Linked DNA regions of Homo sapiens. The protein of the gene in region 1 purifies or fractionates together with the protein of each later gene. This does not show direct contact. Each region holds a gene or a part of one and is shown on either strand. Other genes may lie near its edges.

The links.
Region 2: the proteins of FAM181A (region 1) and CLYBL purify together in Homo sapiens (affinity purification with mass spectrometry; one large-scale study listed by BioGRID and IntAct). This does not show direct contact.

The regions. Positions count from the first base shown.
Region 1 is NC_000014.9:93,925,844-93,929,443, reverse strand, and holds the start of FAM181A (protein FAM181A), read right to left. Parts: upstream 2,101-3,600; 5' UTR 1,990-2,100; exon of another isoform or gene 1,818-1,989; intron 1,246-1,817; coding exon of another isoform or gene 1,159-1,245; coding exon 280-1,158; 3' UTR 1-279.
Region 2 is NC_000013.11:99,854,381-99,858,392, forward strand, and holds part of CLYBL (citramalyl-CoA lyase, mitochondrial isoform 1 precursor), read left to right. Parts: intron 1-4,012. UniProt on the Homo sapiens protein: Mitochondrial citramalyl-CoA lyase indirectly involved in the vitamin B12 metabolism. Converts citramalyl-CoA into acetyl-CoA and pyruvate in the C5-dicarboxylate catabolism pathway.

The DNA.
Region 1 (3,600 bases):
ATCCCAGTACCTATGGTCTGCACAGGGACAGCGGGACAAGCTGCTGGGCCCTGGCCTGCCTGGGGAGGGGCCAACCAGGTCCAGCCTCCCAGCTTCCAAGGCTGCAAGGCTGAAGGGTCACTGCCTGAGGAGCCCTGCCCCAATCCTGCCCTCCACTCCCATGCGCACACAAACGGAAGAGGCCACACTGTGGCCCAGCCACCTCCTCACAGGAGAGCGCCTCGGGGACCTCGACACTCCTGCAGGCCAGAGGTGGGGGCTGAGGCCCTCTCCGCGTGGCTAGAGGTAGCCAAAGACATTGAAGATGGGTGGGGGCACGGCTGGCTTGGTGGGGATGGGTTTCAGCACCACGGGCCTGCACACCTTCTGCCCCAGGCCGTCCACATCCTTGCAGAGGTGCGCCAGCTCCCCGGGAAAGGCTGGGCTCTTCCTCCAAAGGCCCAGGCTGGGGACAGGACTCTGAGGCAGTGCCCCCAGGGGGCCCGGATAGATGGGCTGTCCATGGTACTGGAAGGGGCAGCAACTCCAGGCATTGACGCGGCCCACCAAGGAGACCCCAGGCATCTTGAGCGGCTCCTTTTCAGCCAGGGCCCTTGGAGACATGGACACCAGGGTAGTCTCAGGTCCCAGGGGCTCCAAGCCCTTGCAATTTTTCTTACCCTCATAGGGAGGTCCCTCCCTGGGGCCCAGTCCCCCCTCCAGCCCCACATGGTAGCTGTGGGTGGGCCTTGGCTCTTCCCAGAAGGAAGCGGGCAGCTGTCTTTTCCTCATGGGCACCTGGCCAGGCTGGGCAGCTTCTGGATGCTGCCTCTGTGGGAGCTGCTCCTTAGCAAGACATTCCTCCCTGTAGGGGTTCCTCAGCACCTTCTCCTTGCAGCCCCCACCCCCGCCGGGGCTGGAATCAGGGCCCAAATCCAGGAGCAGCCTCCTGGGCCGGTCCTCAGACCCCCTTTTCAGGTAGGGCTCAGCAGCTCTGCCAGGAAGGCCCCGCGGGAGCCGGGAATACTTCTGGGAGAAGCGCTTGAGCTGCTTCTGCAGGTACTTGCGATGGTCCACGGAGCGGCGGCAGGGTGCGGACTTATCCAGGGCTGCCTTGATGTCGCTGGACGCCAGGTTCACGAAGTTCAGCAGCATCTTCACATCACTGTCGGATGCCATCACCAGGGGGCCACTGCACGAGGCTTTCCATGAAGAGGGTAGGCTCTGCTGGTGGCCGGCAGCTCCAAGGAAGGGCACCGAGCTGACCTGGGGGACAAAACAGGCCATCGGAGTCTCTCCAAGCAACCACACCCAGCCCTCCCAAAAGACCACAGCACCTGTCTACAAACAGTCTCCCCACCCCAGCACCTCTCAGCCCTAAACAGAGTCCTGGGTAGAGGGATGTGGGTGCAAGTGGCTGAGCACTTCCTGCACACCTGGGATGCGGCAGGCACCAGCAGAGCCTCGCCCAGCCTGCTTGGGTCTGGTGCCCCTTCTTGCAGCCAAGGCTCAGAAAGGTCAAGCAAGTCGCCCAAGGTGACCCAGCTACAGGTGGCATTGCTGGGGCTGGCACACACTCCCAGCCTGCCCCATCTCCCACACACCACGCTGCCAACGTGTGCAACTTGCCAGCGAGGTGTTTATTCTCTGAGCTGAGGCAACTGTTCCTCTTTAAAGCAAGGCCAAGCCCCCTTCCTCCCTGGTGGTAGCCTCCCCCTCCCACCACTCCTGCCCCCAGCACGAGGAGCACCAGCCCCCCTCCTCAGTCCCCACGCTCCACCCCCAGCTCTCACGCAGGACCAGGCAGGACCCCTGTCTGGCACTTAATCGAGACCTGCCTTGCGGGCTGATCTCAGGCTGCGGGCAGCAGGGATTCCCCCGAAGAAGCATCTGCAGCAATTTCATGCCTCCTCGGCCGCCACCCACGGCACCTCGCCCCTCCCCCAGGCCCCAGCCTGCCCCCACACCCGCCACCCAGTCGGGCCAGAGCCACCGGGCCTCCACACTGACCGAAGGTGCGGCCCAGGCCCCACCAACGTGGCCCGGCAGGTTCCCCACTGCAGACCTGGGACAGGCCCCGGCGCAGCCGGCCGAGCTCCGTCCGGCTGGAAGCAGTTGTGCAACCCTTGAGTGGGCTGAATGGAGGACAACTCCCCGGAGCTGGGGGGCCCCTCAGGCCAATCAGGAGCGCCTCTCCAGATACAAAGCATCCCAATCAGGCGGCGGCGCCCCGTTCCCACATTCTTTGCCGTCACAAATTGTCACCATGGGGACCATCACAAAAAAGACAGCTCCCAAATGCAATCATTTCCCGGTAAATTTCTACCCTTCAGCCCCACTCTCCTCAGCCTCCACCCCCCTCCTCCCCTTGACCTCAGTTCCCTGGTTTCTCAAGGGGGTGGGGTGTGTGTGTGTGTGTGTGTGTGTGTGTGTTTAAAATGTCCAGGATTGAGAAGGGGCTGGGCCTAGTGGAGACAGGCTTGCAAACCTCCCCCAAAGACTCCAGGCCTACAGCTGCCATGCTCCAGTGCGGACAGACAATCGGACGGGGTAAGCCGGGGCGGGCTGCTTTTCCCGCTGTCCTTGAGTGTTGAGTGGCTCTCTCGCTCTCACTCTCTCTTCTCCTGTCTCTCTGTCTCTCTCTCTGTCTCCCCCTGCCACCCCCACCACCCTCCCTGCCAGGATCCCCCAGGGATCGGGGATGGAGGGCCTTCAAGGTCAGGAGGTGCGCTGATGCCTGTCGGAAAAGGTGGCCGAGGAAGGACTCTCTAACGAGGTGCTGGGATATCCATGGGAAGGGAGCTGGAGCTCTCAGGAATCTTGTCTTTATGTTTGCTTCCTCAATTGAGCTGCACAAAGCCTGAATTGCCCATTCAGCGCAGCCGGACAAAAGGTTGGCGTTGCACGGTCCCCTTGCATTTGTAGTCAAACAGTTAGGGACTTAAATCGAGTCGTCATGATGGAGAAAGAGGTGGACAAAGCCCATAGAATTGCCATCAGCAAACATTTTCCTGTGTCATATTAGCCAGTTTCCATGGCTCCCCCTGGCCTGCGGACAATGGGACAAGTTTGCACACTTGGCTACTGTCACCGTGCCAACGCCGGCGGGGCTGCAAGCAGGGCCACTCTGAGCAAGCAAGGGAGCCCAGAGCCGCTGTTGGCCCTGCCCACCAACTGGCCAGAGGGAAGGTGAGGCTGAAGGCGAGGGCGGCCGCCTGGGAAATGCTAATGGTCGTGCCTCCGTGCCAGCCCAGCTCACGGGCCCCTTTCACGCCTCATCATTTTTCTGCCCAGACTCAGCCTCCTCTTCCCTCCTCCTCTCCTTCCCCTTCCTTTTCTCTTCCCCTTCTACTGCCTTCTCCTCCTGTCTCCCTCACCAGCCAGATGGCTGGTGGCCTGTGCGCCAACCCACACCTCTGTACTACAACCTAAGATTTGGCATCTTAGGTTGCAGGACTCCTCCCTGGAGTCTCCCTACCCAGACTGGGGGCATTGGCAGGGCAGAGCCAGGGCCTCCATCCAGAAGTGATGGCCCTGCTCCTTCCCACTGGCCAATAGACAGCTGCTGTGGCCTGACTCCAAGCCATCTCCCCTACCCCTGGCCTGAGGGTCCTTACAGGC
Region 2 (4,012 bases), on another chromosome or scaffold:
GGTTGTCACAATCCCCCTTGAATCTCGTATCCTGTCTGTCTCATCCTATCCGACAGTAGAATTGATGCCGCTCTAATCCCTGGAAGTTTGGAACTAATGAACTGACTGCTGAGCTGCCGCCACGGAGCTTGGTCCCAAACTATACTGTACTTCACACTCGATTTATTCTCCAGATGGCGAGACTGTGCCGCCCTGCCGCGAGGGACCACCTCTTCCACTGGAGTGTAAAAGTGGACGGATGTTGTTTTCTTTGCAGATTTGATCATTCTGAGCTAGAAACTTGCGAGGATGATTAGTTATTAGCTTTAATGGGTGCCAATTGAACCAACTGCACGCATATTTTCTCCTTTAATTTCAGAGTCTGCAGGTTTTGGTGATGGTTGATTTCTCCGCTTTCTTACGTCACCAGAGCGTGTCTCTTCCCCAGGTGATAGGAATCCAGTCTCTGAAATCATAGCACGCCTTGGTTCCTGGCCCAGACAGAGTCACCTAATACGGTGGCTTATGGATAAGGACAAGTTTATTAGCCACTGGTCCACTGCACTGAGCAGCATGGCACGAAATATCGATTGAATGCGGCAACTTTGGGAACACCATTTTTTAGAATGGGGGCCTGCAAAGATTGTAATCTGTGCCAACTTCCTCTATGACCTGGGCAGAGTCCACCTCTGGATCAAACATGATCCAGAACACGCTATGGTAATTAGTCTCTTCGAAGTTCTAATGTAACTGTTGATAAAGGCCTTAATTCCATTATTCAGTCATTTCCAGCTTGTCAGATCTTGGGGGACAAGTTCATTCCACAGTGAGAATGGCTCACCAAGGCTGTCCTGTAGTGTTAACACATTTAGAATGCAGTCCCTCTCAAACCTCATTTTAAACAACCTGTATTACTCCTAGGATATAAAAGCCCCCATAAAAGCTCTTTTTGGGGTGACCGCTTTTACCTTAATTTCCTTTTTCTCCTTCCTCCAGGAAGCACTTACCTCCCAATAGTCGTAGCAGGTCACCCTGAGAGCCCTTCTGAGAGCTGGGGTCAGCCAGGCAGCCTCTTGCTAATCCACCTAAGATGGATATTGGAGGGATGGTCAGAGCCAACCAGGAGCCAAAGAAAGAGAGAAAGAAAAAGAAGGAAAGTGTGAAGCGTGAAGGATGAGGTGGTGGAGATGAGAGAGCTGAGAGCGCTGTTAGCAAGAAGTACAGTGTGTGTGGCAGAGAGAGGGAAAAAGAGAATAAAATGAACAGAATTTCTTTCTTTTCACAACTGGGTGGACTGTGACTCTCTCGAACTGAACACCCAGAACTAAACTTAATTGTTCTTAGAAACTGCCTTCCTCCCAACCCAACAGATGGCATGGGCGTGTTTGCTAGCACAGTCAAATACTTCACCCTGAAAATACCAAAAAGAAAAAAAAAAATTCAACATGCTCGCTGGTTGGGGTAAATTCACTGAAGTTGTTGAGTGTTTTGGGATATATACCAGAGGGATGCACACTTGGTTTATGTAAATTGTAACAAGCAACAGCCGGTTAATAAGGGTGTCGTATGGCAACTTACCTCAAAAGCCATCCTCTGTTTTTGGAAATGTACAGAATGATGAAGTGTAAAGAGCTTGGTTTCCATTCTGAGCCAAAATTTTTTAAATGCTGAGTATTCACTGCTCATTATTATAATATGAAAAGTACTAATCAGATTATGCCTAAAATTGGAAGTAGGTACTTCATTTGCAGCCAATTTCACAAGGGCCGAATTTTGCTAAGTAAACTGGAATGTGCTGAAACCATGGCAATCCGACTTTAGATAAAAATCAAACAGGTTTAGAACATGAGCTTTGAACAAACAAGTCCCTTCAAATCCAAGTGAAACCAAACAGCTTCAAGATCAGATTTTGTTTGACACCAGCCAACATTAACAATTTAGGAAGTTGATGTTGCCAGGGATCCTGCGTTCTTGAGCACACATGCAGATTAGAGGATGGAGATGATGACTCAAATAATTTAAGCTTTAAAATGCAGTATGGCCTAAAAAACTGAGTGAGTTCCCTTCAATTTTCCATTCATACTGTCCCAGTAGACTCTTTGCAAGGCTGACTTAGCTATTAAAAGGGAACCTGGAAGTCACATTGACAAACTCCAGCAATCTTATCTCGTTTTTTTGTAGCTGCATAGGCTACACAGAGAAGAACATGCTTTAGGTTCTCCACAGCCATGGATCTAAATGTGCCTTCCAAAAAGCTGAAAGTATTTCAGTTTTTTGGTTTGTTTGTTTTCGCTTTTGAGATGGAGTCTCGCTCTGTGTCCTATGCTGGAGTGCAGAGGTACAGTCTCGGCTCACTGCAACCTCTACCTCCTGGGTTCAAACGATTCTCCTGCCTCAGCCTCCCGAGTAGCTGGAACTACAGGTATGTGCCACTACACCCGGCTAATTTTTGCATTTTTAGTAGAGATGGGGTTTCACCATGTTGGCCAGGCTGGTCTTGAACTCTTGACCTCAGGTGATCCACCCCCTCAGCCTCTCAAAGGGCTGGGATTACAGGTGTGAGGCACCATGCCCAGCCAGAGCTCAAGTATTTCTCCCAGCAGCTCTAGACAGCTTTAGAGCCAAGATACTGAGCCAACTTCTGCTCTTCACCTTTAAGATTTTCGTATTTAGGGCCGGGCACCGTGGCTCACACCTGTAATCCCAGCACTTTGGGAGGCTGAGGCGGGTGGATCACCTGAGATCAGGAGTTCAAGGTCAGCCTGGCCAACACAGTGAAACCCTGTCTCTACTAAAAATACAAAAATTAGCTGGGTGTGGTGGCGGGTGCCTGTAGTCCTAGCTACTCAGGGGGCTGAGGCAGGAGAATCACTTGAACTCAGGAGGCAGAGATTGCAGTGAGCCGAGATTGCGCCACTGCACTCCAGCCTGGGTGACAGAGTGAGACTGTGTCTCAAAAAAAAGAGAAGATTTTCGTATTTAATGGCTGTAATAAAGAATGCATGGTAGAGCAAGTGGGCGAGTTTTATATCTATGGAATAAAACAAAGGTATGATGTGGAACCAAGCCATTGCTGGCTGCATCATCTCTGACTTTAGCTAGTCTGAGCTCTCTCTTGCTTTTGTCTAAGTTGGCCTAATTATTGGCAGATGAAGCTCTGTAAATCAGGACTTCACAGAGCAGTCCTAAACTGTCTTAGGTACTCTTCCCATCTGACCCGACAACTCTAAGCTACCGTTTCCTCACATTGTTTAACTCAGACCACATTTGGAAGCATTCCTTGCTTCTCCCCGCTCATAGACCCACATCTGTCTGGTTTAAATCTGCTGTCCTGGGTTGTCTTGTTGCTGGGACTTAGACTCAATATTTGGCTTAAATAATTCTTTTTTGTCTCTGCTTTGGTTTGCTATTTTCCTAGATCAGTATTGCTTTTCAAATGGTTATATATTATTGAGACCTTTTTTGTAAACTACATTCATCAGCAGTGAGAAGCTTTAAAGTTTTATTAGTATCATAAAAACCCTTCCCAAATGAAACTACTTTTGATAAGTGTTCATTCTGACAATGAGAATTTGTTGAGGGCTGTTGGCAAGTTGGAGGAGTTGGCTTTTGAAACTGAAATTGGCAGGAAGTAATGACCCCCAGTGCTTTCTTTCTCTTGACTCCAGCCTCACCCTTTCCATGCACTTCTTTCTCTCCCCAACCCCACCTTCATTGCCCCCAAGCCAAAGCCAAGAAATAACATACTTGGTTTCATATAGTTTTTCTGGGGACAATTCAAATACTGAAGCAGACTTTCAGCCTTTCAGCTTTTCTGAACTGTGGAGCAAAGCCTGTCAAGTCAAAGAAAAAAAAAGTATTTGTCAAGCACTTCATGAAGGGATTCCTTGCCTTCCACCTGAAGAAGTGGGAGCTTTTCTTGTAGTACACATTGTCAGATTCCTGTGAGCATCTTCTTAATTGAATGTCAAGATTCAACTCAGTTGCAAAAAAATAGTGAGTAAAAAAAGCATGATGCCTGTGGAAAAAGAAA